3 linked regions of the Homo sapiens genome follow. The protein of the gene in region 1 purifies or fractionates together with the protein of each later gene. This does not show direct contact. Each region holds a gene or a part of one and is shown in the gene's direction. Other genes may lie near its edges. The genes, in order: ZDHHC1, DDI2 and TAOK2.

What was found.
Region 2: the proteins of ZDHHC1 (region 1) and DDI2 purify together in Homo sapiens (affinity purification with mass spectrometry; 2 studies listed by BioGRID and IntAct, with this or other methods). This does not show direct contact.
Region 3: the proteins of ZDHHC1 (region 1) and TAOK2 purify together in Homo sapiens (affinity purification with mass spectrometry; 2 studies listed by BioGRID and IntAct, with this or other methods). This does not show direct contact.

The regions. Positions count from the first base shown.
Region 1 is NC_000016.10:67,406,387-67,416,204, reverse strand, and holds part of ZDHHC1 (palmitoyltransferase ZDHHC1), read left to right. Parts: 5' UTR 1-34; intron 35-61; exon of another isoform or gene 62-302; intron 303-6,326; exon of another isoform or gene 6,327-8,391; 5' UTR 8,392-8,429; coding exon 8,430-8,438; intron 8,439-9,762; coding exon 9,763-9,818. UniProt on the Homo sapiens protein: Palmitoyltransferase that catalyzes the addition of palmitate onto various protein substrates, such as NCDN and NLRP3. Has a palmitoyltransferase activity toward NCDN and regulates NCDN association with endosome membranes through this palmitoylation.
Region 2 is NC_000001.11:15,619,323-15,629,140, forward strand, and holds part of DDI2 (protein DDI1 homolog 2), read left to right. Parts: intron 1-7,346; coding exon 7,347-7,476; intron 7,477-9,818. UniProt on the Homo sapiens protein: Aspartic protease that mediates the cleavage of NFE2L1/NRF1 at 'Leu-104', thereby promoting release of NFE2L1/NRF1 from the endoplasmic reticulum membrane.
Region 3 is NC_000016.10:29,968,337-29,978,505, forward strand, and holds the start of TAOK2 (serine/threonine-protein kinase TAO2), read left to right. Parts: upstream 1-5,531; 5' UTR 5,532-5,660; coding exon of another isoform or gene 5,661-6,299; 5' UTR 6,300-6,312; intron 6,313-9,401; 5' UTR 9,402-9,436; coding exon 9,437-9,568; intron 9,569-9,752; coding exon 9,753-9,824; intron 9,825-9,915; coding exon 9,916-10,017; intron 10,018-10,169. Other genes in the region: TMEM219 (insulin-like growth factor-binding protein 3 receptor isoform 1 precursor), read left to right, coding at 3,072-3,209; uncharacterized protein LOC124903762, read left to right, coding at 5,286-5,444, 5,661-6,299. UniProt on the Homo sapiens protein: Serine/threonine-protein kinase involved in different processes such as membrane blebbing and apoptotic bodies formation DNA damage response and MAPK14/p38 MAPK stress-activated MAPK cascade.

The DNA.
Region 1 (9,818 bases):
AGGGCCCATCTGGCACGGCCTCCGCGGCGCGCAGGTGAGGAGTCCCCGCCCGGTTTCTCACCTCGGAGCCTGGCTTGAGCCACGGGGTAGCGGATGCTGCCGCCTGGCCGGCTTTGGGCTCGCTTCCGCCTGGAGCCGGTGGCCTGAGTTCCAGGGCCCCGGCAGAGCGCGGGGCTTCCTTTTAGCATGCATCAAGTTCACAGATCTTCCTTGAGCGCTTACTCTTTGCCAGGCTCTGTGCCAGGCGTGGGCACAGAGGACTCCCAACAGACGTGGTCTGTCTCCAGAACCCAGAGCATTAAGGAAGGGGGCTGGGAAGCGGATGTCATACATGACTAAAGTGATTTCAGGTCGGGTTAGGCTCTCTGGTATTGAAATGGAGGGGTTGGTCATGGAGGGTCTGTTTTAAAAGGAAACCATGGGAAGAGTTTTAGTTTTTTCTTTGAGACGGAGTTTCGCTCTTGTCACCCAGGCTGGATGGAGCGCAGTGGCACGACTCGGGTCATTGCAACCTCCGCCTCCCGGGTTCAAGCCATTCTGCTGCCTCAGCCTCTGGAGTAGCTGGGATTACAGGCGCCCGCCGCCACGCCCGGCTAAGTTTTATATTTTTAGTAGGGACGGGGTTTCACCATGTTGGCCAGGCTGTTCTCGAACTCCTGACCTCAGGTGATCCACCCGCCTCGGCCTCCGAAAGCGTTGGGATTACAGGTGTGAGCCACCGTTCCCAGCCAATTTTTTATTTTTTTGAGACAAGGTCTCCCTTTGTCACCCAGGCTGGAGTGCTGTGGTGTGAACATGGGTCACCGCAGGCTCCGGCTCCCGGGCTCAAGCGATCCTCCCGCCTCAGCCTCCCAAGTAGCTGAGACTACAGATACCCGCCACCACGCTCAGCTAATTTTTTAAGGTTTTGGTAGAGATGAGGTCTTACTATTTTGCCCAGGCTGGTCTCGAGCTCCTGGTCTCAAGGGATCCTCTTGCCTCAGCCTCCCAAAGTGCTGGGATTACAGGTGTGAGCCACTGCAAGCGGCAGAAGAGTTTTTTATTTTTTGTTTATTTTTATTTTTATTTTCCAGATGGAGTCTCGCTCTGTCACCCAGGCTGGACTGCAATGGCACAATCTCGGCTCACTGCAACCTCCACCTCCCGGGTTCAAGCGATTCTCCTGCCTCAGCCCCCCAAGTCTGGGATTACAGGCGCCTGCCACCACACCCAGCTAATTTTTGTATTTTTAGTAGAAACGGGGTTTCAACATGTTGGCCAGGCTGGTCTTGAACTCCTGACCTCAGGTGATCCAGCCACCTTGGCCTCCCAAAGAAGAGTTTGGATGAGTTTCACGTTTGAAAAGCTCACTTCACTCTGGCTGCTGAGCAGCATGGTTGTGACAGACATACCGGGAAGTCAGTTGAGGGCCATCCTAGTTCTGCCAATCTAGCTGTGCCTCCTAAAATAACTCATTTAGTGTCTCTGAGCCTCAGTGTCCTCATGATGGGAGTGGGTGTTCTGTATGTTTTTTATGAGGAAGTGAGAGGCCAGTCACATCTGAAATCAGTGACTACAGGGATCTACAAGAACAGTTGGAAATGATAGGACCTTCCTTAGAGCTCTATGAGGATTGAATGAGTGAATTCCACTGAAACAGTGCCTGGCACAGAATAAGTGCATTCTAAATGCTGGTGTTGGTTATTATCATGCAAACACTGTAGGAGAGCGATGCTGGAGGTTTGGATTGGGGTAATGACAGCAGAGATGGTAAAAAAGTGGCTTGACTTCCTTTACTGAAAGAGAGCTGGGTTCAGACACGGGTGAGGGGTGGTCTCTGCTTTTGTGGAACTGGTGGTTCACTGTGGGAGACGGGTTTGTAAACAGATAATCACCATGAGATGCAGTAAAAGCAACAGTGGTGCTTAATTAGCCAGATTGTTTTGTTTTGTTTTTGTTTTTCTTTCTTTGTTCTGTCACAACGTTGTTTTTAATGACTCTTGTGTGGTGGGTGTTCCCCAAGGCTGGCTCCTGCAGTCATGAGTTGATTTCCTGGTTAAAGTCAATAACCTTGGCCTCTCTTCACTGGCCTTGTTTCTATTCTGTGTTACTCCCTCCTACTTGTCCCCTTTCCTTGGCTTCATTTGTATCCCAAACAATTTGCAGTGGTTGCTTCAGGAGGAGAATGGCACAGAAAATGTTTGCAAACCATGTCAACTCAGGAATAATTGGAGTTTCAAGCTTTTCTTGCCATAGCATCAGACTTTTTTTTTTTTTTTTTTTTTTTGAGACGGAGTCTCGCTCTGTTGCCCAGTCTGGAGTGCAATGGCATGATCCCGGCTCACTGCAAACTCCACCTCCTGGGTTCAAGAGATTCTTCTGCCTCAGCCTCCAGAGTAGCTGGGATTACAGGCACCCACGTCCATGCCTGGCTAATTTTTGTATTTTTAGTAGAGACGGGTTTCACCATGTTGGCCAGGCTGGTCTCGAATTCCTGACCTCAGGTGATCTGCCCGCCTCGGCTTCCCAAAGTTCTGGGATTACAGGCATGAGCCACTGGGTCCAACCAGCATCAGACTTCCACCTGTTGTTTATGAGAGAGAAAGCAAGGGCCCAGCCACATCTGAGATCAGTGACTTGAGAGGTCTTTGGGAACAGCTTGAAGTTCCAGTTTAATTTTTGGTAGTTGTGTGATGCGCATCCGTTAGTTGAGCTAGAGCTGCTTCTCAGAATTTTAAGGCCAGAGACTTCTCTGGCACCTGTGGGGAATTTTAATAAACAAAGTACTTGTCCCTAAAGAATCTTTTGTAAATGACTTTTTGCAGTGTAAAAATCTGTGTACCGTGAAGTGTTTTCTTTCTAGCTTCCCTTTAGGTAGTTCAACTGGGCATCTGTTAAATCTCAGTGAAAATTATTTCAAAAGCAGATCCTGGGGGAAACGGAAAGTTCATTTAGGAATACTCATAGATAGAAAATCTCCCGACTGGGCACGGTTGTTTACACCTGTAATCCCAGCGCTTTGGGAGGCCAAGGTGGGAGGCTTGCATAAACCCATGAGTTTGAGGTTACAGTGAACGATGATTGCACCACTGCACTCCAGCTTAGGCAACAAAGCAGGATCCTGTCTCTTAAAAAAAAAAAAAATAGGCTGGGTGCAGTGGCTAGGAGGCCGAGGCGGGTGGATCACCTGAGGTCAGGAGTTCGAGACCAGCCTGGCCAACATGGTGAAACCCCGTCTCTATTAAAAAAATTCAAAAAGTAGCCGGGCGTGGCGGCGGGCACCTGTAATCCCAGCTACTCGGGAGGCTGAGGCAGGAGAATCACTTGAACCCAGGAGGCAGAGGCTGCAGTGAGCCAAGATCGCACCACTGCACTCCAGCCTGAGCAACAAGAGTGAAACTCCGTCTTAAAAAAAAAAAAGTGAAAGAAAAGAGAAGAAAATCTCTCACATGGAAACCACAAGTCCTCTAGCAAAAGGACAAGATGCATGGGAACAAAAGTTTCCTGTGGAGTGCACTTTCCCTTCGGGTTCTGGGAGTCTCAGGTAGCTGAGTTGGCTGTGGCCAAGGATGAAGCAGGTCCTGCCTAGCAGCTCCTCTGTTGTGCTGTCTGGTTGTGTGATTCCAGCTTTGACAAGATCCCTAACAGTTCATAGGAAGTTCTGTGGCTTTTCCTCATAGCTCTGCAGCCAAGCGTCTTAGAATTGCTTTCAAGAGTGAGAAAACATTTCACTAAAACCAAGCCCCCTTGTTAGGCAGGAATTCTTTGTCTGGCATGATAACAGGGCTCTAGATCACACGAGTGTGTTTCATCCACAAGGCAGCTCAGTGGGGCCAGGAAGGCAGGAGGTGACATCCCCTAATCATTTATTATTAGACATACTTTTTTTTTTTCAAAAGCAGTACATGCTCATGATAAAAATATATATATATTTGAACAGTTTGAAGGAGTACCAGGAAATGCAATTTCTGTCTTACAGCTCTTGGACCACTAGGTCTCATTCCTAGGGGATGCTCCTGTGTTTGGTTTCTTGCATTTCATTCTGGAGAAAATCTGTGCGTATAGGAATGTAGATATCTATCCATCCCCGCAGCCTTTTTTTGTTTTTTTTTTTGAGACAGAGTCTCGCCTGTTGCCCAGGCTGGAGCGCAGTGGCACGATCTCGGCTCACTGCAACCTCTGCCTCCCGGGTTCAAGCAATTCTCCTGCCTCAGCCTCCCGAGTAGCTGGGTCTACAGGCCCGCACCACCACGCCCAGCTAATTTTTGTACTTTTAGTAGAGATGGGGTTTCACCAGGTTGACCAGGCTGGTCACGAACTCCTGACCTCAAGTGATCTGCCCTCCTCGACCTCCCAAAGTGTGGGGATTACAGGCGTGAGCCACCGCGCCCGGCCCCCTTTGTTTTCATTCACTTGGTAGCGCCATCTACAAGTGTTCTTCATCTTGCTTTTTCACTTAATTGTGTATCAAAGATTACTTCATCCCTTTTTTTTCTTTTTTTATCCCTTGCTTTTGATGCTGCCTAGCATTTTATTGTATGGATGTGCCATAGTTTATTTGTATTGTCTTTTGTCCTTTATTATTGCAAACAATGCTGCAGTAAATCTTTGTGAGTATATGTATAAGATAAATACCTAGAAATGGAATGTCTGGGTCAAAGGGCATATATGTTCTAAAGTTTCGCCAGACTTGGATATTGCCAAATTGCTTCACTGAACTTTGTTGAAAGATGAGTACAGAAGAGATCCAAAGAAGTGGATCTGTGAAATTTGCCCCAATGTTCCTCAGTCTGTGAGTGGCAGCTCGGGAACCAGAAAAGGGCTCTACTCCAGGCTCAGCCCTCTTCCTTTGATCCCACCTGCGTCTCCCCATTGGCAGTGCAGGGCCCTCCAAGCACCTGCTTCAACCCCGTCGCTTTCTCCTCTGACCCCATCACCCTGCCCTCCCAGTTCCTTGTCCTCTCCTGGCAAACCCTCTTTAGTAATTAACTTGATTCTGAAGCCCTCAGGTAGCTTGCAGGAATCCAGGGATGCCCGCAGTCTCTCCAGGGCTGGTACTTTTCACCTTGGTGTGGTTCCTTTGAGAGTGCTAGGCATGAATTTCAGAACAACATTCCTAAATGGTTTTTTTTTTGTTGGGAGCAGAGGTGGGCAGGAGGAAAGTGGGTCACTCATGTAACTATAATGTAGTTCGTAATGAGAACTTAAAATGTTAAGATTTCCTTCATTTGACTTAAGCATATAAATTAAGGTACGCAGGCAGGGCGTGGTGGCTCATGCCTGTAATCCTAGCACTTTGGGAGGCCGAGCTGAGTGGGTCATCTGAGGTCAGGAGTTCTTGAGACCATCCTGGCCAACATGGTGAAACCCCGTCTCTACTAAAAACATAAAAATTAGCTGGACGTGGTGGTGCATGCCTGTAATCCCGGCTACTTGGGAGGCTGAGGCAGGAGAATCGCTTGAACCTGGGAGGTGGAGGTTGCAGTGAGCTGAGCTCATACCACTGTACTCCAGCCTGAGCGACAGAGTGAGACTCAGTCTAAATAATAACAATAATAATAATAATAATAATAATAATAATTAATTAAGGTAGCCTAACCTTATATTGAAAACACCATCTAAGGCTTTTAGCAAGTGAATGTTAATGTGAACAGATTACTGTCATCCTGCCAATGGCTTTCACCTTGTGGGGGATAAGGGAGGGGCCTCCACAGCCCCTCCTGCCTGCCTCAGAAGCCAGGTGGGTCCTTGGCTTACCCAGGCCACGGGACACCCTCCTTCCTGTCTTCCCTTTATCCCGGCCAGCCTGACTCTCTATGGTTTGTTCTGTGGCAGTAGAAGGTACATGAAGAATGTTTTCCCAAGGCTGTGTACCTCTGAGCCTTGCAAAGATGCAGCTGGAGGTAGCCAGGTGGGCAGCAAGGAGCTTGTGGGCTTCACCGCCACCTTCTGACAAGTTTCTCCCAAAGCACAGGGCTGCTGGGCTCCCTGCTGGGCCACTGTGGTGCCGCTTCCCCCATGCCCTCCTCCCCACTGGCTAGAAAGTTTTCCAAAGCACCCTGAGCCATTGGGTCACTCTCATGCCTTCAGCCTGCTTTGCCTCCATGTGGCTCTTCCAGCAGTGCCCATGTGTCCTCACCTGGCCTCCTAGACCCCTGTGATCTGAGCCCCGCAACTCCTTCAGTCCCATCTCTCACTGGGTCCTGCTCTCCATTCCCTCCTTCCCCCACCCCCCACCCCCGCCACCTGTCCACCCTGTGTTCTGCCACATTGGATGGCTGGCCCTTGCATGGGCTGCCAAAATGCCCATTCACCCACTGCCCTGGTATCTGTTCGTGTCCGTCCAGGTCCCAGAAGAGAAGCCCCTGAGGGCAGGCACCCGGTCTCATCTGTGTTTACATCCTAAGTGCGCAGGCTGGGCTCCGATAAGTGCTGACTGGCCAAGGTCAGAGGGTGCCAGCTGGCTACGTCGTTGGAGAACAGAGCCACATGTCTTTCAATCTGGTCTCCTAGAGAAGTGCTGAGAGGGGAGCAACAGCCAGAGAAGTCCCGGGGTCTGGTGACAGTGCTTGGTCCCATCCATGGGCCTGGGAGCCCCATCTTGGATTCTCTCCGACCTCCCAGCCCTTTTAATCAAAATCTTTTGGGCCGAAGGAATTTGTAGCCACCAACTCTGCAGGAGAAAATGTCGTCAGTGAAGAGTGGGCTGGCCTGGGCATGCCTCTGGGCCAGCCTGGGCGTCTATACCAGAATGCTGCCTCTGCTGAGGGAGGTCTGCCTGGCAGCACCATCCCCACATCCACAGCCTCAGACAAGTGCTCCCTTCCTGGGCCTGATTTGGAGTATCGGGGGTATCCTGATTTGGAGTATCAGGGGGTATCCGATTTGGAGTATCAGGGAGTATCCTGATTTGGAGTATCAGGGGGTATCCTGATTTGGAGTATCAGGGGGTATCCTGATTTGGAGTATCAGCGGGTATCCTGATTTGGAGTATCAGGGGGTATCCTGATTTGGAGTCAGAGCCATCCCCAAGGCTGTAAGTGGCGGGCGCCTGGCTGCAGATGGTGACTCCTCCTGCCTCAGGAGTCAGGGATACAGCAGCTCTGGGGGTGCCTGTGGCCACTGCCAGGCAGTGGGGCCAGATCAGCTGCATGCGTCTGTTTTGCTCTTTGGAAACTCCTGCAAGGTGTAGGGTTGTTCAGGTTTGGGGATGGCAAAAGGAGAGCCAGAATTTAGGAATCCAAATTAATGGATTCCTTTCAAAGTAATTGCCCTGGTGATGGTGTCACTGGGGAGCTGATGTGCAAGCCACAGAGATTGGCCCCAGAGCAGAACCATCCAACCCAATCATATTCACAGGGCTTGACCTGATGACCTTTGACAATTCCACAATACAAGGACAAAGATTTGCTATCTTTGGGGACATGCAAAAGAAAGTGAGGGCTGGGATAGTGGGTCATGCATGTAATCTCAGTGCTTTGGGAGGATAAAGTGGGAAGATCGCTTGAGCCCAGGAGTTGGAGACCAGCCTGGGCAACATAGTGGGACTGTCTCTGCAAAAATAAAAAATAAATAGCTAGGCATGGCAACACGCCGCTGTATTTCTAGCTACTCAGGAGGCTGAGGCAGGAGGATCACTTGAGCCCAGGAGATTGAAGCTTCAGTGAGCTATCATTGCGCCACGGCACTCCAGCCTGGGTGACAGCGCAAGACCCTGTTTCAAAAACAAAAAACAAAACAAAACAAAGCAAGGCCGGGCACGGTGGCTCACGCCTCTAATCCCAGCACTTTGGGAGGCCAAGGCTGGCGGATCTCTTGAGTCTGGAGTCCAGGAGTTGGAGACCACCCTGGGCAACATAGTGGGACCCTGTCTTTACAAAAAAATAAAATAAAGTAGCCAGGTGTGGTGGTGCGTGCCTGTACTTCCAGCTACTCTGGAGGCTGAGGTGGGAGGATCACTTGAGCCCAGGAGGTCAAGGTTACAGTGAGCTGTGATGGTGCCACTGCACTCCAGCCTGGGCAACAGAGCAAGATCCTGTCTCAGAAGAAAAAAAAAAACCCTAAACCCAAAACCCAAATACCACCAGTTGAATCCCTGGGGGAAAACTAAGTCCTCCATTTAGCTTTGAGATGGGACAACTCAGAGGTCACTTCAAATAATGCTTGGCTTGGCCTGCAGGAGGCTCTGAGCCTCAGGTGGGCTGAAGGGCAGGGTGGCTAGGAGTGAGTGTCTGGCAGTCAGGGTGGTAGCCAGCCGGCAGAGGGAGATGGGCTGCGGGAGGCATGGGTTCACGACCCTGCAGAAAGAGGGCAGGGCTGGATGGATGGAAGGCAGGAGAAAGCAGGCCAGATGGCTTAGGGTGGACCAGGATTCCACACCATTTACTGTGCCCACGTTTCCTTTTATTTCAGCTGTTTTCAAGTCAGCAAACATTTACTGAGGATCTACTATGTACAAGGTACAATTTTGGGTGCCTGGGGGAAGGGACATAGGGGACAGAGATGAATAAACCCCACCCAGCACATTTGCTGCCTTTGGGGAAAGTTGTCCTAATGAGGGCAGACATGAGGATTGCAAAGCGTCCCAAATGGCAAAGTAATTTGCCCAACAATGACTTAGCATAAGGGCCCCCTGACTCAGGGCATCAGGGAAAGCTTCCTGGATGAGGCAACCCTTGCAGTTGGCTCTGAAGATCAAGCCTCATTCTGTGGATTGAGAAGTGAGAAAGGTGATCCAGGAAGATGCACTGAGTCGGGGTCTGCGGCACCCTTTCTGCTTAGGTTCCCTGTCTCATGGGCAGGGGCTCCTGAAAGGAGAGTTCAGCTACCAGGGTTTTAGTCCCAGCTCCTGGCCTTCCCACCATGAGCGCAGAGCTGGCCTGTCTCCCAGGTGTGGCGCTGCCTGCCTGAGCTGTTGTCCCATCTTGGGCCCATATCCTGGGGATGGGGGTCTTCCTCCTGTAGCCTACCCCTTCTTGCCTGGCATTCATCCCTGGACCCTGGGCCAGCTGTCCGGCTAGAGGGTGGCGGGTGGAGGGGGTGGTTGATGCCATCTGGTGGTCTGGCTCTGAGTCCAAGGGCGTTAGCCCACCTTTCTGTACAAAACTGTACACCAGGCCCAGATTTACTTAGAGAAACGTGGTCATTTCTGCTGCTGAAGGGAACTAAAGAGGAATCCTTCCCTTCCTCACATGTGCTGGCCCCTCCCCAGCTGAGAACCCTCAGGCAGCATGGGGCAGAGCTTCAGACTCCCCCAGTCCTAAAGGGATTTTCTGTCCACCGTGGGGGAGAGGGCAGATCCTCCTTCTGGGCACCCCATTCCCCGTTTCCCTGAGCAAAGGATAGCGGGGGTGTCTGACACTTGCATTTGGACCTCAGGAAGGAGGTGACTAATCCTAACAGAATCAGCATGTGTTCTCATCACTCTGGCCCCAGCCTGATATTGTTACCAGATGAGAACATGTCTTATTGGGTTTAACTGTGATGGCTGTGAAGACAGCACTTTGAGTTACAGGCAGCAGCACTGTGTCCTGAATAAATCCTGGGCCCTCCTACCTTGTCCTGGCCAGTCTAGGGCCAGGGTTTGCTTTGGGCTTTGAGACAGCAGCCCACTCCCACCCTCTCCCCACTGCCCATCTCTATTGTGCTAGGACCCCAGTTTCCCCAGCAGAGTAGCTGTCGCAGCCTACTCCCCCTGTGCTGAAACTTGGCTGCAGACACAGGCCCTGGGCTCCAGCCCAGCTTCTTGGGCTAATGCTCTCTCTACTGTTTCTCCCTCTGGAGATGAACATCTGCAACAAGCCCTCCAACAAGACGGCCCCTGAGAAGAGTGTGTGGAC
Region 2 (9,818 bases), on another chromosome or scaffold:
ACCATGTTGACCAGGCTGATTTCAAACTCCTGACCTCTAGTGATCTGCCCGCCTCGGCCTCCCAAAATGCTGCGATTACAGGTGTGAGCCACCGTTCCCGGACAACTCTTCAATTTTTGATAGTGGCTTTTTCTTTTCTTTTCTTTTCTTTTTTTTTTTTCGAGACGGAGTCTCTGTCGCCTAGGCTGGAGTGCAGTGGCGCGATCTCGGCTTACTGCAAGCTCCACCTCCCGGGTTCGTGCCATTCTCCTGCCTCAGCCTCCCGAGTAGCTGGGACTACAGGCGCCCACCACCGCGCCCGACTCATTTTTTGTATTTTTAGTAGAGAAGGGGTTTCACCATGTTAGCCAGGATGGTCTCGATCTCCTGACCTCGTGGTCTGCCCGCCTCGGCCTTCCAAAGTGCTGTGAGCCACCGCACCCGGCCCGATAGTGGCTTTTTCAATTGTTTTTTCCTCTAGCTGTTATATTACCCTGGTTATGATCACCGGCTGGTAGGGAAAATAAGAAATTAAAATGTAAATTGATTTTGTTGTTAGGGCTTGGGAAAAGACAGAGGTTGAGGTTGTTTCCATTCCTGCACTTTTTGTGATGGCTGAAACAAGAAATTTAAGTCAAAGGGATACCTGACACCCCCTTTAATTGACTTAAATTTCTTGTTACAGCCATCATAAAAGACGATTTATTGTGTGGTCAGCCAGACATTGCCCTCTGCCAGTTGGTAAAGTTAGGAATACCTTAGTAATTGAACATAGGCTAACTCCAAATTATTTCTTGTTCATTATGTCAATGTTTCGGCATTTACTTCCTTCCCAAGCCAAATTAGCATATAGAAACTTGGGCTCCAACTGGTGTTAAGCCTGTATTAGATAGCCATAAACAGCTCCTGTTTTTCCAGTCTGTTCTGTTGGCTCCATTGTAACCTGACAACACAGTATCTATTTTAAGGTGTCTGGTGGTCGGTTGTCTTTCACTTGCTTGCTTGCCCATCAGGCAGGAACAGGATCCACCCTAGACACTTGAGTCATTTCCTTTCATCAAATCATAATAGTAAACATCACTATAGTTTTTACCCATAAATATATCATGTTTACTTACTTGAGTGTCCCCCCCCATTACCTCCCAGGGTTCTCTCATATTACTCATCTTCCCTTCCTTTCCTAGACTGTTTAACTCCTCCTCTTGTTTACATTCTCCATTCCCATTCCTTCACCTCTCATTTCTGATTCCATTTCTTCAAGGAAATATATATATTTTTATGTTCTGGCTATTTTTTCCTGCCACTATGTGTCCACACCACTGGTGTCCAAACTTTCATTCATGTATCCCTATCAGTAAAATGTTTCAGATTATGCTTCTGTTATGTATATAATACATTATATACATGAACTGATACGTTGTATACATTATATATGGCCACATGTGCATATAATACACATAACGTGCATTATATGCATATATAATATGTTATCTGTAAAGTAACATTGTACACACACAAAATGGAGCTTAAGGAAGGACGAACTAAAATAAATGGAAATGAAAATTCTAATATTTTCAGTTTCTTCCTCCACCGTTAAAGAATTGTCTTGCATGGCTGCCCTACATTGGTGATCAATGGTTTAGAATTCAGTCTTTCACCTGAGTGTCAATTGCACATAAGCATATAGTTGGAAAAGGTGTTAATTTTTAACAGCTCTAGTCTGATGATAGTAGTTACAATGCAGTGATAACAAATTTAGAACAAGCCATCTCTGCTTGTACATGTGATTAAAGCTGGGCATGTTCTGTCTCTTAATAGAAGTGTGGGCTTGGAAGCCAGTCATGGCTCTGTTTGATGCTTTGATGCAGACTTGCCTGGGTGAACTTCAAACAGTTATCAGAACTTAGCTTCACTTTAAATTAATGTCTTCATATTTTTGAGACATGATAATTTACCTCTGTAGGTGGCATATGGAAAAAGTAGGCACAACATACAAGGACCCTCAAATGAAAGGCAAATAATAGCAGTAATTGTATGATCTTGGAAATGCACACAGCATGATTTGTGGTTTGTAAACCACTATTTTATCTTCTGTGTGTTTGTTTTTTTGAGACAGGGTCTTGCTCTGTCACCTAGGCAGTAGTGCGCTCACAGGTCACTGTAGCCTCAACCTCCTGGGCTCAAGTGATCCTTCCACCTCAGCCTCCTAAGTAGCTGGGACTACAGGTGTATGCTACGACATATGACTAATTTTTTTGTTTTCTTTGGAGATGGGGGTTTCACTGTGTTGGCCACGCTGGTCTCAAACTCCTGACCTCGGATGATCTGCCTGCCTTGGCCTCCCAGAGTGCTGGGATTACAGGCGTGAGCCACCGCATCCGGCCCCAAATTGATAATTTTAAAGGCTACATAATATACCATCATATAGATGTGTTGTAATTTAGCAATTTCCCTTTTGTTGAGCATAATATTGGGGAAAATTGGAAGCAGTTGTAAGTAACATGCCATGAACATCCATATACTTAAGACTGTAGCCTCCATTTCTGTTTTCTCAGGATGAATTCTTAGATATGCAGTTGCCAGATCAAAAGCATAAAGTCTTTGAAAGGTTTTTAGTAAATTTAGATTATACAAGTCAAATTGGCTATTACATGGGGTAGTATATGTAGATAACTTGGTAGATATTGGGTATTTGATTAATGGTAATACTATTATGAAGCCATTCAGATGTAATTCCAAATGTTTTGTGGCCGGTTTATGGTCCTTATTTTATCTTTATTCTTTATATTTTAGAGATGGGATCTCGCTCTCGCCCAGGCTGGAATGCAGTGTTGCAATCACAGCTCACTGTATCCTCAACATGTTGGGGTCAAGGGATCCTCCCAAGTAGCTGCGACTTTTTTTTTTTTTTTTTGAGACGAGGTCTTGCCAGTGCTAGGCTTGAACTCCTAACCTCAAGCAGTTCTCCTGCCTCTGCCTCCCAGAGTGTTGGGATTACATGTGTGAGCCACTGCACCTGGCCTACTAGTTTATGTTCTGTAATGCTAGAAATTTATTGTTAAGCTTTTTGTTAATAGAAGGCTCTCATTCAGAGACCAGAAAACACCTGACCTCATGCTTAAAAGTTCTGAAGTTTTATTAATTAGTCTATTGTTAAATGTTGATTAAGATTATAATTCAGTCTCTGGGGTGCCTCCTCTGGAGTAAGTACCAGCAGTTGTGCCAGTTTTGCTGATTAAGACTCATAGCTGTATACATTTTCTTGTTGTATGTTCTTATAACTGGCAAAACTTGAATTTTGGGCTTTGTAGCTGTTGAGTTGGGTAACATGAATGGTGGAAGGATCAAGAATGCCGGCAGCGGATCCCCTTTTGTTTTTATTGGTAGAGATTTGAAGCCATGTCTAATAGATACTGAATGTTTGGTTGGAAGATCACATGGATTTATTTTGGGACTTTTGCTGCAAAATAATTGTCTTTCTTGGACTCTTAAGCCTATTTAAACAAAAAGAAATCAGTTCTTTGTGGCAATTACAATTTTAGCTAAGCTTTAGTTGATCTCATTTATGTCCTTAGATTAAAATGGAGCACAGCTGCTGCTTCGTCAGTGTGAGGAACGTGTGCGCCTCACCCAGGTTCTTCAGTCTAGTGTTTCCAGGAAATTGGCGCTGAAGCAACATTTCATATTTCATAGACATGCTCAATGTGGTGGTTATCTAGATTTTACATTTTTATTGTTAGATCATGCTGCCTTCCTTTAAAAAATGCTATTGTCTGCTGAGGAAATATTGTGGCAACTAAGCAGTGATGGAGTGAAGTATGGCATCTGTGAAGTGGGAGTCAGAGCGGGCAGTTGGTGGTGTTTCTTCATGTCCAGGGCATGGGGATGCGTTGAGCAGTGGACAGTATTTTGATCCTCTTAGTGGATAGAGTCTCTTAGTGGCAATGGATGGCTTAGTAGTACTTGTTAAAATCACCCAGCTAATTCACCAGGCCACTTTAGGGTTATGTTCGGGAAAGCTGTATATGATACTCCTGGAGTAATGGGCTTTGAAATTAGACAGTTCCAATTGCAGTTTTCTTCTTCTTTTTTTTTTTTTTTTTTTTTTAAGAGACAAGATCTTATTCTGTTGCCCAGGCTGGAGTGCAGTGGTACAATCATAACTCACTGCAACCTCGAACTCCTGGGCTCAGGTGATCCTCCAGCTTCAGTCTCCCAAATAGTTGAGACTACAGGCATATGCTACCATGCCTGGCTTATTATTATTATTATTATTATTATTTTAGAGATGGGGTCTTGCTGTATTGCCCAGGCTGGCTTTGCATTCCTGGCCTCAAATGATCTTCCTACCTCATCCTCCCAAAGTTTTGGAATTAAGGCGTGAGCCATGGCACCCAGCCTGCATAGGATCATTTTGATTCTCCTGAGTTTGCTTCCTCCTTGTAAATAAATAAATTTTCTCTTATAAATAGTTAGTGGCCGGGCGCAGTGACTCACGTCTGTAATCCCAGCACTTTAGGAGGCCAAGGCGGGCAGATCACAAGGTTAGGAGATCGAGACCATCCTGGCTAACATGGTGAAACCCCGTCTCTACAAAAAATACAAAAAAAAAATTAGCCGCTTGTGGGGGCAGGTGCCTGTAGTCCCAGCTACTCAGGAGGCTGAAGCAGGAGAACCTGGGAGGCGGAGCTTACAGTGAGCCGAGATCCCGCCACTGCACCCCAGCCTGGGCGAGAGCGAGACTCCGTCTCAAAATAAATAAATAAATAAATACCGTTAAAATGTGCCTCTGCTCCCAGGAGACTGTTCATGTATCTCTAAATATACTGATAGTTGAATTTCTGAAACTGGAAAATTAAAGAGTAGGTTGTTGACAGTGGCTTCACAGTGTTGATGCTATGCTGTAAGAGCCTGCCTACCTGCCATTTCTCTTGACATACCTCTTTTTTCTTGTTGCACACCTCAACCTGTGACGCTCATCACTTCTGGTTTATGTGTTTTTTCCAAGCAGTCTCACAAGTTATAATATGACTCTCAGTTGTTTTGCTGAAATTCTGTGTTGATGGTGATGTACTTTTACTGTGAAATTTGTGTTTAAATGAGGGTGTGTGAATGGGATGATGGGAGTGACAGTTGCAGTCTGTTGAAATGTGGTTCTTTTTTTGTTTGTTTTTGTTTTTTAAGAGACAGGGTCTTACTCTGTTGCCCCAGGCTGGAGTGCAGTGGTGCAACCGCAGCTCACTACAGCCTGGACCTCCTGGGCTCAAGCAATCCTCCTGCCTCAGACTCCTAAGTAGCTGAGACTACAGTCACATGCTACCATGGCTGGCTATTTAAAATTTTTTTTTTTTAGATATGCGGTCTCACTATGTTGCCCAGGCTGGTCTCAAACTCCAGGGCTTAACCCATTTGTGCTTAGCCTTCCAATGGAACGCTAAGCTTGTGGGAGTTATATCCTACTACTCAAGGTCATTGCCAAGGTATGATTTTTTCACAAAAGAAAATTTGCAACCTCTGGCCTAAATGGGTTAAGTGATGCTCACACCTCAGCCTCCCCAAGTGCTAGGATTATAGGCATGAGCCATCATACCAGATCTGAAATGTGTTTTAACTCAGCGAGTTGAGCATTAAGGACTTAATAGTATTTTTTTTCAAGTCATGCATAAAACTTGTATAATTGGGCCTACAAATTTGCTCATATTCAGAAGAATTTGATTTTGGTAGGAACTCATTTTCCTGTTCTGTTCCTCATGTCTATAAATTCTGAGAGCAGATATGGCATAATCACTTTTTTTCCAGTTTAAATGCTGTGTTTTCAGTTTTTATTTCAGGTAACCTTACTATGAAAGCTGTAAGGAAACATAGAATGATAATGTTAGCAGAGAGAACTGGAAGGGACAGCTGTAATGATGATCTAGCCCACCTGCTTGCTTGACACATGGGAAGGGTGAGGTCTGGACCTGCTGAGTGTCATGCCCCTCGCAGGGAGTTACTGGCAAGGATAGAACTCATGTTCCTCAGTTCGCATGTGGCCTGGTGAAAAATCATTAGGAGGAAAACCTTTCAAAGCCTGAGTTTGTTCTGAATGCCTTTCTGGAGTATGTAATAATGCAGGGCAGATTTTATGTTTTTTCATGATAAAATTATAGTGTACCTTTGTTCTTTCTATCTGCAACACATTATTTCATCTATTTGTGCTGTCAGGTTTTTTTCAGTTTGATTACACATCATAAAATATTTTTATTAGTAGTACATTCCTAATTCTTTTTTCCACTTGTATTTAGTTGTTATTTTCTTAGTTTCACTTTATTTTCCAGTCTCCCCCCTCCCACCACCCCACCAAGATGGAATCTTGCTTGCCCAGGCTAGGGTGCAGTGGTGCGATCTCAGCCCTGCAACCTTTGCCTCCCGGGTTTAAGCAATTCTCCTGCCACAGCCTCTGGAGTAGCTGGGATTACAGGCACGTGCCACGACACTGGGCTAATTTTTGTATTTTTAGTAGAGACGGAGTTTCACCATGTTGGCCAGGCTGGTCTCGAACCCCTGACCTCGTGATCCACCCGCCTTGGCCTCCCAAAGTGCTGGAATTACAGGCGTGAGCCAGCGTGCCCGGCCCAGAGTGATAAAACTTTGGGGGTGGTAGAAGAGAAGGAAGATTGCAGTGCAGGAAGGATGATATTTGGGACCCTTTTGCCAGTGTTCAAGATTATTTCAAAGTGCACACTTTATTTAATAGTACTGTAGTTAGTTAGCATACCCAGAATAAATCATTCCCTTTTCCTCCCTGCTAAAAATTAAATCTAAAATTATATCCATTTCCATAAATTCATTCATTCTTTAGTTCAACAAATATTTGAGCATCAGTTATATAACAGGCCCTGTTCTAAGCATTTATGATCTCGTGAATGAAACAAAGTCTTTGTCCTCAAGTAGTTTACATTTAATGGGGCAGAAGGACAATAAGTAAATATATATTGTGTTAGTTGAGAGTACATTTTAAATAACATAGTAGGGAAGAACTCTAAAGAGTAATGTTTGATCAGAGACGTAAAAGGAAAAAAATGAGTGGAAAAAGAACATTCCTCAGGTAGAGAAAACAAGAGAAACAGCCCTGAAGGGGAAGTTGATCCCTGTTGTTTGAGGAACAGCAGTCATAGTGAAAGGCGAAGTCAGGAGAGCCAGGGACCACATTGTTTGGTCCTGCTAGGTGACGGGAAGGACTGTGGGTTTTGTTCTGGATGTGGTGGGAATCCACTGGAGGGTTTGAAAGGAGGGTGACATCTGATTCAGGGGAAAACTGGTCCTTCTGCCTTGCGCTGTGTTACTTCTCAGTGCTTTATACTGTTGTATATCTTTTCTTGTTGTAGATCGTCTATGCGGAAAGACCTCTCACAGACAACCACAGATCATTGGCTTCTTATGGCTTGAAAGATGGGGACGTTGTGATTTTACGACAGAAGGAGAATGCAGACCCTCGACCTCCAGTGCAGTTCCCAAGTAAGACATCTGGTGGTTGAGCATCCCCCAGCAGAACCATCAGCAGGTAGCAGAGCATAGCACCTCAGAGTTTTGGATTCGCTTTGGATTCAGACTACAGAATACAGATCCTGACTCTGCCTTTTCCCTGCCGTGTAACCTTGAACAAGTATTTTAATGTCTCTAAATTGGTTTCCTCTTCTATAAGTTAGGTGCCATAATTAACCCCAACTCCTAAAGCTGACGTGAGGCTAATGCATGTAAAATCTTAGCACACAGCAAGCCCTCAATAAATGTTAGCTTCTGTTATCAGTGATAATTATACAATAATCTTTATCCTTGGGAAGGACTTGAAAGAATACATAAGCCTATGATTTTGCTACTTTGTGTCTGTCCTTCAGTGGCCAGCCTTTCTGGAGCATTTTATAGCCAGCCAGGCACTTGGAGCTGCATTTCACATGATCTCATAACTTGGTTGTGGGGGGATTTACATACTAATTTGCATAATAATTTATAATTATGAAGCTCAGATTTTAAATGGTGTCTTTAAAGTTACATAGCTATTAAGTGAGGGCACAGGAATTAAAATTTGATGCTTTTTCCATTATGCTGAACTTGATAAACATTAAGCAGCTTGACCACCAAGTTGTGGTTCTTTCCTACCAGCTGTGTTAATCACATACAAAGAAACGTTTATCTATCTTTGATGCTGCTTTTATAATAGATGTTTATAGTCTGAACTCTGTGCATTGGGATTTAGTAGGTTCTATGTCACTGAAATAATATGCAGAATTGTGTGGATGTGAATGTGTGTGTGCACTGGATAGAGAGAGGGTCATAGCTTTGTTCAGATACTTGAAGTGGCTCATGATCCACAAAATGATTATAAGGTCTTAATGTGAAACAGCTTGGTGAAATGTGTGGTTTTTTTCCATTCGCTGCCATATTCAGATAGATTTTCTTAAATAGTGTTTAGCCTGTAGGTCACCAGTTTTAAAGTTTATGGTGACAGATGCTGGCAGAGTCTGGGTGATGACAGACTGACTGCAGTTTTAACCACAGTGTTTCCATTCAGCCTGAAACTGGAACTTACTGAGACCATCAAGGACCGGCTCCACCAGATCTGGAAGACATTAGTCCCTTGGGGCCACAGTTAAACTTTAGAAAGAAGTTAAAACTTCTTTCTGAAGAAGTTAAACGTATTTAAACAACTATGACAATCAGTAAAAACCACATCTTCCTTTGGTTAATTTGATGAGATTATTAATTCCGGAATTTACTTCTTTTTTTTTTTCCTCTGCATTGTTGTTTATGGACAAGAGAGCCTGTAACAGGTTGGGGCAGGAGTGATCTGGTCTATTAAGTAAACATGTTTTTGAGAATTATTCTGAAGTGAATGGACTCTCAAGATAATGTATAACAGGAGTGGAGATAAAATTTCTTGACCTGCAAAGAGGGCCCACCCATATATGTTTTTCTGGCTGGTATAGATTAACTACCTCACAGAGATCATCCTCTTCACTTCACCATTTCCTTGGTTGGGAGTTGAAGAAAGTGGCTAGTTGAACCCCTGCTAAAGGGTAGAAATGTTACATCATGAGTTTAAGCATTCTCTTTTTCTATCTGAGGTCCAAAAAGGCTTCAGGATAGTCCCAGACTTGAGACAAGTTTGTTTGTTTTTTGATTTTTTAGTTTATTTAAAATCCTTAATAGTGCAAGGATTGTGCTATAATTCTGATCACTGTGGAATTGCTTAGTGTACTGTCATTTATAACATTAAGCACAGTTATCCTTAAGAAAAGTATTCAGTTGTTCAGACAAGTTTGACCATCAACTATATTTTTTGGAGTTGAAGGAATGTCGATTGACTCAGGCCTAGCCCCTCATTCTGGCTCTCCTTGTTTACTTTTCTCTTTTTCATTTTTCTTTTTTAAATAACAGTTTTATTGAGATAGAATTCATGCATTTAAATGATTTTTTTTTACTATATTCATGAGTTGTGTAACCATCACCACAATCCATTTTAGCGTATTTTCATTACCTTAAAAAGAAATCCTATACCCATTTATAGTCATTTCCCATTTCCCCCTAGTCTCCGCAGCCTAGACAACTACAAGTCTACTTTCTGTCTCTATGTATTTACCTATTTGGAACATTTCATATAAATGGGGTCATACAATATGTGAGTCCGTTGTGTAAGGATTAAAATTCCCTTTTATCTTCCTTTCATTTTAGTAAGGTCAGTTCCACCTGGCATATAGAACCTGGGAGTTGTAGCTTCTAAACTGTGGTAGCTTTTGGTGTATTCAGCACTGAGAACCTATGCAAGTCCCTTTTCTTCTTTCTTTTCTATAAAATGATGA
Region 3 (10,169 bases), about 37 Mb from region 1:
CCTTGTAGAAAAAGCACAGGTTTTATAACCCTGCCTTGGGGGCTGTGTGACGTAGAACAAGTGTCTAAACATCTCTGAGTGTCAGCATCCTCATCTGTAAAACAGAAAACATGACCCTATCTCTTAATTCCATCAAATAAGGATTAAATGAGAATGACCGTGAAGTGCCCAGCACATTGCCTGGGACATAGAGATTTGATAAGTGACAGCTATTGTTGTTTACTATTGTCTTTAAAACATTCTCTCTACTTCAAAGGAGTTCAGAAGCTATAATAAGAGGCAAATGGGCTAATTGCTATTAGAGAGATGTGAGCAAAGTGTTATGCAAACACAGAGAAAGGAGCCATTAACCCTAACTTGAACATTTATGGAGAGTGCATCACAGAGAAGGTGGCATTTACCAGAGAGCATTGTGCACAGTGGTTTATAATGCACAAAGTGCTCTCAGGGTTCATTAATTCATTTGATCTTAAAATAGCCTTTTGAGGTAGGTGTTATTATCCCATTTTACAGATGAGGAAACAGGTTTAGAGAAAGGGAGTGAATTGCTGCAGGCCACACAACTGGTTAAGTGGCAGAGCCAGGGTTGCAACCCACACCTTCTGTCAAGTCAGAATGATCCTTGAAGAATGAGGAAGATTTGGACAGGGACTGCAGTAGAGGAGGTTCAGGAGAGGGGGAGGTACACTCCAGGCAAAGGCACCAGCATGCGCACAGGCCTAGAGATTGAAAAGTGTTCAGCCAGGTGTCACATCTGTAATCCCAGCACTTTGGAAGGCCGAAGCAAGGAGAATGCCTGAGGCCAGGAGTTCCAGACCAGCCTGGAGAACATAGCAAGACCTCGTTTCTTTTTCGCTTTTTTTTTTTTTTTTTTTTTTGAGACGGAGTCTCACTCTGTTACCCAGGCTGGGGTGCAGTGGCACAATCTCGGCTCACTGCAAGCTCCACCTCACAGGTTCATGCCATTCTCCTGCCTCAGGCTCCCGAGTAGCTGGGACTACAGGCGCCTGCCACCATGCCCGGCTAATTTTTGTATTTTTAGTAGAGACAGGGTTTCACCTTGTTAGCCAGGATGATCTCAATCTCCTGACCTCGTGATCCACCCACCTCAGCCTCCCAAAGTGCTGGGATTACAGGTGTGAGCCACTGCGCCTGGCGACCCCATTTCTTAAAAAAAACATTTTTTTTTTTAATTAGCAGGGTGTGGTGGTACACACCTATAGTCCCAGCTACTCAGGAGGCTGAGGTGGGAGGATCCTTTGATCCCAGGAGTTTGAGGCTGCAGTGAGCCATGATTGTGCCACTGCACTCCAGCCTGGTTGCCAGAGTGAGACCCTGTCTCAAGAAGGAAAAAAAAAGAAAGTGTTCAGCCTTTGGGAGCACTCCATGTTGAGAGGCTTAGGAAGGAGAAAAGGCAAGAGAGACCACAGGGATTTGATGGAGAGGCTCTGTGAATGCAGGATAGAGGGCTATGACCTGATGCTGAAGGCCGTGGGGGCCACTGAGGAGTTTTAAGGAGGAGAGAGATGTGCTTCCCTGGTGCTGGGTGGAGAATGGCTGAGTGGAGGAGGGCCATCAGTCAGGAGGCTGCTGCACACTCCACTCTCACATTTGAAAATACCCCATGAGGCACGGTGGCTCACGCCTGTAATCCCAGCACTTTGGGAGGCCAAGGCCGGTGGATCACTTGAGGTCAGGACCAGCCTGGCCAACATGGTGAAACCCCATCTCTACTAAAAATTTAAAAATTAGCTGGATGTTGTGGCGGGCGTCTGTGATCCCAGCTACTCAGGAGGCTGAGGCAGGAGAATCTCTGGAACCTGGGAGGCAGAGGTTGTAGTGAGCTGAGATCATGCCACTGCACTCCAGCCTGGGCAACAGAGTGAGACTCCGTCTCAAATAAAGAAAAAAAGAAAAGACCCCATGAGGAGCACAACCTGGGACTTGGAATCAGAGATCTGGTTTCCAGATCTAGCACTGCTTGCACTTTTTTTTTTTTTTTTTTTGAGATGGAGTCTTGCTCTATCGCCCAGGCGGGAGTGCAGTGGCGCAATCTCAGCTTACTGCAAGCTCCGCCTCCCAGGTTCACGCCATTCTCCTGCCTCAGCCTCCCAAGTAGCTGGGACTACAGGCGCCCGCCACCATGCCCGGCTAAGTTTTTGTATTTTTAGTAGAGATGGGGTTTCACTGTGTTAGCCAGGATGGTCTCAATCTCCTGACCTCGTGATCCACCCACCTCGGCCTCTCAAAGTGCTGGGATTACAGGTGTGAGCCACCGCACCCAGCCACTTATACATCTTTAAACTGTGGATCATAATGAAGTTTCCTATCTCATGGAGTTATGATGGGGTTTCAGGTTGATAATTGGGCAAGAAAGTAGTTTTTAAACCATCAAGACAAATGTTCGAGCCTGGGCAACATGGTGAAACCCCATCTCTACAAAAAAACACACAAAAAATTAGCTGGGCGTGGTGGCACACACCTGTGGTCCCAGCTACTCAGGAGGCTGAGGTGGGAAGATCGCTGGAGCCCAGGAGGCGGAGGTTGCAGTGAGCCGAGATTGCACTACTGCACTCCAGCCTGAGTTACAGAGTGAGACCCTGCCTCAAAAAGAAAAAAAAAAAAAAGGGCCAGGCGCGGTGTTTCACGCCTGTAATCCCAGCACTTTGGGAGGCCGAGGTGGGCGGATCATGAGGTCAGGAGATCAAGACCATCCTGGCTAACACGGTGAAACCCCGTCTCTACTAAAAATACAAAAAATGAGCCAGGCGTGGTGGCGGGCACCTGTAGTCCCAGCTACTTGGGAGGCTGAGGCAGGAGAATGGCGTGAACCCAGGAGGCGGAGCTTGCAGTGAGCTGAGATCGCGCCACTGCACTCTAGCCTGGGCGACAGAGCAAGACTCCATCTCAAAAAAAAAAAAAAAAGACAAATGTCAGCTTATATGAAAATAACATTTTCCCTTCAGTTGCTCCCTAGATGTGGAGAGCCCTCTCCCTCATGGAGGCTCCTTCTATAGCCCTTGGACTGGATTAACATGTCCTCCTCCTCCTCTCCCTGTACCCCTCCCTAGGAGGAGCTGGCTCTGTGTGGCTCCAGGCTGCTGGTCTTGGGCTCCTTCCTGCTTCTCTTCTGTGGCCTTCTCTGCTGTGTCACTGCTATGTGCTTCCACCCGCGCCGGGAGTCCCACTGGTCTAGAACCCGGCTCTGAGGGCACTGGCCTAGTTCCCGACTTGTTTCTCAGGTGAGGTTCTTTGCTCCAGTCCTGCGGGAGCAGGGAATGGGGTGGGGGTGGGGGTTGTAACCGGGGTAGAGCAGATCCTTGGACTTTTCCTCAAAGACTGCTGCTTCTGAGTCCCCGAGAACCTCTTCAACCACAGCTCTCCCTTAGGGACTGGGAACAATTTGACACCGTCAGCATTCAATATTTTTCTAATTACTTTAACTTTTTTATTATAAAATAGTTAACACTTATGTAGAAAAGTCCAATAGTATAAAAGGACAGCTTGGCAAATTATTATAAAGTGGATACTTATAAATACCACTGAGTAGAATATTACCAGCTGTCCAGAAACCCCCCATGGTCCCTTCCTTCCTGACAATGCCCTCTCTCTCCCTAGAAATTACTGTCCTGCTTTATAATGTATTGCCATGTATGTATTCCTAAATAATATAGTTTGGTTTTACTTATTTTTGAAACTATGTAGACAGAATCATACACATTCTTTTGTGGCTGACTTCTTTCAAGCAACATTGTGATTTTAAGACTCATAACTAGTTCACATCCAAGCATTTGGGTAACAATGGTGAGTTAAGAGGGTTCACATTTGATGATTTGTCCTGAATATGAACCATGTTTGTCTTGCTTTTGTCCTGAAATTCCAATACCCAGTTTTATGATGGAAATTTTGTAAAATTCAACTTGAACCGCTCAGAAGAGTCTAACTGATGATACTCATTTACTGGGGACATAGTATGTGCCCAAGAACTTGACATGCACCTTCTGTCTTCCATTTAGTCATCGTTACCTTTAGAAAAAGCTGATTCCGTTAACAAGATCTTTGGAGGGAATCAGCTTCACAAACGTAGCAGTGGGTGGGGGTCATGTTGGTTAACCAGTTCACACATCAGCTCACTAAAGGAAAAAATATTTCTGCAAAAAATCTTCACTTGTCAGAGGGGGGTGCATGAAATTTGAGAGCCATGTGTTATGCATCCAGCTCTTGAACTGGTCTCAGCTTCAGCTGGCTGCAGTGCCCTAGGAAGTTACTATGGGAAAAGTGGAAATAGTTGAGGCCCAGGGAACTGATCAGGCCAGAGGAAGTGGAAGCTCAAGATCAACTGTGCTTATTTTGCTGATGGCTGGGCCTAAATGCCCCAACCACCTACTTGGGACAGGAAATGACAGGACCCTCTCAACCTTGGACTGGGAAAGGAGGGCTTCCTGGCCCCTGACAGACCCTGGGGTCCTGAGGCTACCTTAGTTGGGATTAAATGCCCGTATTGGTCTCTAGCTGTCACTCCCTCTGCTCCTTCCTCAATTTCTGCACACATCTCAGAGCTTCCTCTAGCAGCTCTTCGACCTGTTTTGTTGTTTTATTTTCTTTCTCCCCAGGTGTGAATCAACTTCTTGGGCCTTGGCTCTGAGTTGGAAAAGGTTTTAGAAAAAGTGAAGAGCTGGAATGTGGGGGAAAATAAAAAGCTTTTTTGCCCAGTGGCGTGTATGGTGTTTATTGGGGGTTGGATTGAGGTGGGGATTTTAGGGTAGGCAGGCTTAGAAGTTTTGGGGGACTCTTTCCTGTTGACTCTCTAGTTTGGACACAGGTTGGCATAGGGCATAGGTTACTTGAGCTCTCCCCATGGTTGACTTGGCTTTGGTAAACACCTGTCTTGTTTTCTTCTACGAAATAAAATGGATAATTACAGTTAGTTGGGCGGGTGGGGTGTCAGGTCATGGAAATGCTGTGACATAAATGCACTGTGACCTTGGCAAGTCTTGCAACCTGCAGCGCCTCAATTTCCGTAAGAGATTTGACCGATTGAGTTTTCCCAGCGTCGACGCGCAAAGATTCCTCGCACTTGGAGGCCCTTTTCCAGGTTAGATGGTTGCTAACCTCGGAGCAGTCTATTTTCCCGCCTTTTCCGCGCCCAGCAGCAGCTTCCTTTGCCCCTCCCAACTTCCACCCTGCGCGCAGTCGCAGATCGCCGCTGCTGTCCGTCCACCCGCGCCCCCTCAAAGCTTCCCCTAGCAACAAGCTCGGGCTCAGAGCGAAGGCGGGGCGAGCGCATGCGCTGCAGCTCTGTCCACCGCCAGTCGTGGGACAGAGTGCCGGGCTCCTCCCCTTGCAAGTCTAGCTCTTCTCCCCGCCTCCTCCGGCCTGGGGTCCGCGTGGCGGGGCGGGCGCGCACTCGGGCTTGGCGGCTGCCGGTCTCCCAGGCCGCGGCAGTGAGGAGAGAGGGCGGGGCTGAGTCCTCTGCGCCCCCGCCCCCTTTAGCCCGGCGTCCCTACCGCGCCTGCGCGCTCCCGCCCGGTCTCCATCTTGGAATTGGGAGGAAGAGGGAGAGGGAGACCGGGACGAGACCGGGGCTGTGGTGCGGAGAGAGGCTGAGACGGAGAAGAGGAGAGGCAGAGAGGGCGCGGGGACCGTCAGCAGCACCTTAGCTACAATCGTTCAGCTATTCTCGGAAGAGAGAAGGGAGAGGGAGGAGGCCGGGGCGGGAGTGGGGGCTGTCACCCTCGGACCCCGGCGTGAGAGGGGCCGTGCGGCCGGACGTCCTCGGGGTGGGCCCCCAGTCGGTGGCCGAAGACCTACAGCTCAGGCCCCTGGGTCCCAAATTTCCAGGCTTTGCCCCTCCTCCTTTCTCAGATACCCGGGTAACAGTCCTCATAGTCCAGATATCCGGGACTCGGGTCCCAACCTCTCTAAACCTGGGTCTCTGTTTCATAGAATTTCAAATATCAGGTTCAGGCCCCTGCGTGCACCAGTATCCGGGGTTCATTCCCCGGGCGTTCAAATATCGGATTCAGTCTCCATCCCGTTCAGATATTCGGGGTTCAGACCCCACAATCAGAAATCCGGAATTCGGCAGCTGTCGCCCTCGACGAGGGGGAGGACTGGACCGCGAGGTCAGATTAGGTTGTCACCCCCTCCCCTCCAGGGGAGGCTTCCCGGGCCCGCCCCTCAGGAAGGGCGAAAGCCGAGGAAGAGGTGGCAAGGGGAAAGGTCTCCTTGCCCCTCTCCCTGCTTGGCAGAGCCGCTGGAGGACCCCAGGCGGAAGCGGAGGCGCTGGGGCACCATAGTGACCCCTACCAGGTGAGACACGGGGTGCAGGGGCGCGGGTCCCTGTGTCTAGTTCTGAGAAGAAAGGGTGCGCCTTTCTGAGAAGCTGGACTTGGGTAGGCCCTCTCAGGATGGGGAAGCCCAGCTGAGCGAGTGGTCAGCCTCTGGCTAGCCTTGCCTTCTGTTGCCACCCCCTTCCCCTTCCTCTTCCCTTCATTGTGTCTGGTTGGTGGGGGACCTCAGGTGACAGGGTCTCTGATGTCACCGGCGTTCACACCCTAGGGTGCTTCAGCTAATCAGATGGATTTGCACTTCAGTCTTCTCTCCTTCACTTTGCCCCTCACAGCCACCTCTCCTCCCTGATATGTCCCGTTCTCCTGGCTATTCTGTGGTTTTGATTCCCATGCCTCTGATTCCCATGGTGGGTCTGCTTATCTGCTTTTCAGGCCTGGTCTGGTTGGATTTCTTGTCCTTGCAAGGAAGTGTGTGTATATGTGTTTGTGTGTATGCGTGTGTGTGTGTGCTTGGAGGTGCCTGGCAATGTTTTCCCCCAGCTGCAGTTACCTTCCAACCTCTTGCTGTGATGGTGTCAATAATCTCATCCATTTGTCAAACGATCTGTCTTTTACAAAGTGCTTTGACAGCCATTCTCTCATGTGACATCCCCGCATTCACCCTGTGGGGGCCTCTTTTATTGGCATCTTCCCATTTTACAGTTGAGAACGTTGAGGCCGAGAGAGGTTGCCCAAGGTCACACAGTGGCAGAACCAGAATTTGAACTCAAGTCCTCAATCACATCTTTCCCTGATGCATGCCTGGTTCTTGCCATCTCTTTTCCTCTGAGTTTGGGCTCGGCCAGGGGTCCCTAGGAGTCCAGGCTGGGGTGAGGTTTAAGAATGGGGATGAGATGAGCTTCCTTTCCAGGAGGGCTCTACTCAGAAGCTTTTCCTGATGGGAGCCTCTGGCTTTTGCCTCTGCCTCATGGAGTTTTCTATCCACTGTGACCTTCATCTTTACCCCAATCCCAGGGTTTGGCCTGGATTCCTGAGAGGGCTCTCTCCTGACAAATGGTAGCACTAGTGGCATCTTTTAACTGTTCAAGCCAAGCTGTTGGGGTAGAATGATCCCCCAAAGGATTAAAGCTTTGTGGGGACCTTGGAGGCAGGGAAGGAAAAATCCATATGCTGAGTGTCTGCATGGTGTTCCTAAGTATGAGATCTCATTAAAATCTTAACAACAGCTCCATGCTGTAATCCATTTCACTGAAGAGAAGACCAAGAACTGGAAGGAACTTATTTAAAGCCCTGTTGCTGTACATTGCAGACGGGATGTACTGGTAGCATAGCTTAGGAACAGATAGATACGGGTTTCCTCATCTGTAGAATGGAGATAACATTGTTCGTTTTGGAAGGTGGTTATGATTTAGCACAGACCTTGGTTATTGTTCAAGTGTTTGTTGTTATTATGGGGAAGGGGACCTGCATGATGTTTTGCCAGTGGGTGGCACCCCTCCGTGTGGCCTAGGTTAGCATTCTGGGGCCTTGTGTTGGTAAAGAGGTCAGGAAGATTCCTTTGGCAAGTTGAGAGCACCTGCCTTTGTGTGTGGGTGTGTGGTGCTGGTGAGGGGTGCTTGGCACTGTTGCTGGCAGAAGGGAGAAAAGGGCCGGCTTTGAGCAACCTGCGAGCTGCTGAGGGCTGAGCAGAGAGCAATCACTCAGTCTCCCAGGCTATTCTGAGCCCTCTGCACCCTGGGGGCCCACTGGAGAGTCAGGCTCCCTCCTTGCCCTCCAGCTTCCAGTTGGGCTGAGACAAAATTAACAACACAACAGGAAACAATGCATGACAGAATAAATTACATGCTAAAATTGTTAGGTGCTTTTGAGTAGCTAGAACTCTGCCCCAGGAGTCCAGCTCTGCTGAAGGCTCCTTTGTGCCTAAATTCTGACAAGTGCTTAGGCTGGAGCCTGTCTTGGAATCTCCTTGAGGGTTTTGGTTCTGGTATCCTGCAGGAACTTTCTCCGGGTGTTTGGTTGGGTGCCCTAGGTGCTCTTCCCAATGGCTGGAGTGGTCAGGACAGGCTTCCTGCAAGAGGGGAGCTGAGCTTGGGGTGACAGCTGAGAGAGTAATGGATACAGGCCTAACCGGGGAGCCGAAGGTCCTGTTCTCTGACCTTGGAGAAGTCCTTTTTCTTCTCTGTGCCTCAGTGACCTCACCTAGGAAATGGTGATCATGATTCTGCCCTGCCTGTTTCGAAGGGCTGCTCTGAAATCATAGTGATGGAGGACCAGCTTTGGACAAGGCACTTAACCTTGCTGAGCCTGTTTCTTTATCTGTAAGATAGGGGAAATCATAGTACTTGCTTCATAAGGTTGTAGTGAGGACTGAATAGAGATAATGCACGTAAGGTACTCAGTAAATGTTATTTGTACCCTGCAAATGTCCTGTACCTGTGTGTGATGCTTATGCAGTTGGACAGGACAAGTAAGGTGGCCCAGAGCACAGAGAGGCCCTCATAGCCAGATGCCATTTATATCCCTATTCTTCCCATTCTAGATCTCCCCCTGACTTTTTTGAGAGTGACTTTGCGGGCTCCTCTGGGCCAGTACCCACTTCTAACAATGGACGGATTTCCACCGCCTCCGGCCTGGCCATTTCCTGTTCTCTTCCAGGGTGTGAGAGGTTGAGGGAGGAGGGGGCCTCAGCGCCAAGGGGAACAGAAAGGTGCCTGGAAACAGTTGGGGTATAGGACTTATGGGACAGGACACTTGGGGCTCTGGAGTGCTGGCTGGGAAGCAGAATGTTTTATCCTTGAGGGGAGATACAGGGGCTATAGGGAAATGAGAACTTGTTGAGCACTGAAGGGGGTGGTGAGGATACTTAGCTTCCCAGAATCTTCCTAGCAGTTTTAGGGACTCCAGGGACCCAGCCCGCGTGATCTGGTTGCCAGGGCAACTTCATTTTTTGGAGCTTTGATGTTGTTCCTAATCTCCCCCTCCCCTTCCTCAGCAGTGCCTCCTCCTCATCAGGGAATGAGGGGAGGAGATGGCAGAAACTTGATGGGTCCCTTCCTCTCCCTGAAGGCTCAATCCTTGATCTCTAAGGGTCCCATTTCCATTCCTCAGGCCAGGCCCCACTCTCAGGGCCCCCAGGGGCCACCATGCCAGCTGGGGGCCGGGCCGGGAGCCTGAAGGACCCAGATGTGGCTGAGCTCTTCTTCAAGGATGACCCAGAAAAGCTCTTCTCTGACCTCCGGGAAATTGGCCATGGCAGCTTTGGAGCCGTATACTTTGTGAGTTGGGTCTTGGGAGGGTGTAATAGGGATGGGGACTCTTCCTATCCCTGTGGACTTCCCAACAGCCCTTGCACACTACTCCATCACACTGGTCTTTCCTGCCTTCTCTTGCTGGGCCAGCAAGTCTTCCCATGCCCGGCTCTCAATGGGGCCTTCAACACCTTCTGGTCTGGTCCTCTAGGCCCGGGATGTCCGGAATAGTGAGGTGGTGGCCATCAAGAAGATGTCCTACAGTGGGAAGCAGTCCAATGAGGTGGGCCAGGTGCAATACAGCCAGGTTGGGGACAGGGGACTCCTGTCTCAAGATGCAAGCTGGGTAACCTCTGCCTACCCTGACCCCCTAGAAATGGCAAGACATCATCAAGGAGGTGCGGTTCTTACAGAAGCTCCGGCATCCCAACACCATTCAGTACCGGGGCTGTTACCTGAGGGAGCACACGGCTTGGGTGAGCTGGTGCCAGATTCTGGCCTGATCTTTACTCCTATTCATGCCCGTCCTTATCGTAGTCCAGTCTCTTAGGTGGTCCCTGTTCGTGGTGCTGTTGTGGGATCTTGGGAAGGAGGAAGTCTCTTTTGACCGCTTTAGTCCTCAGACATA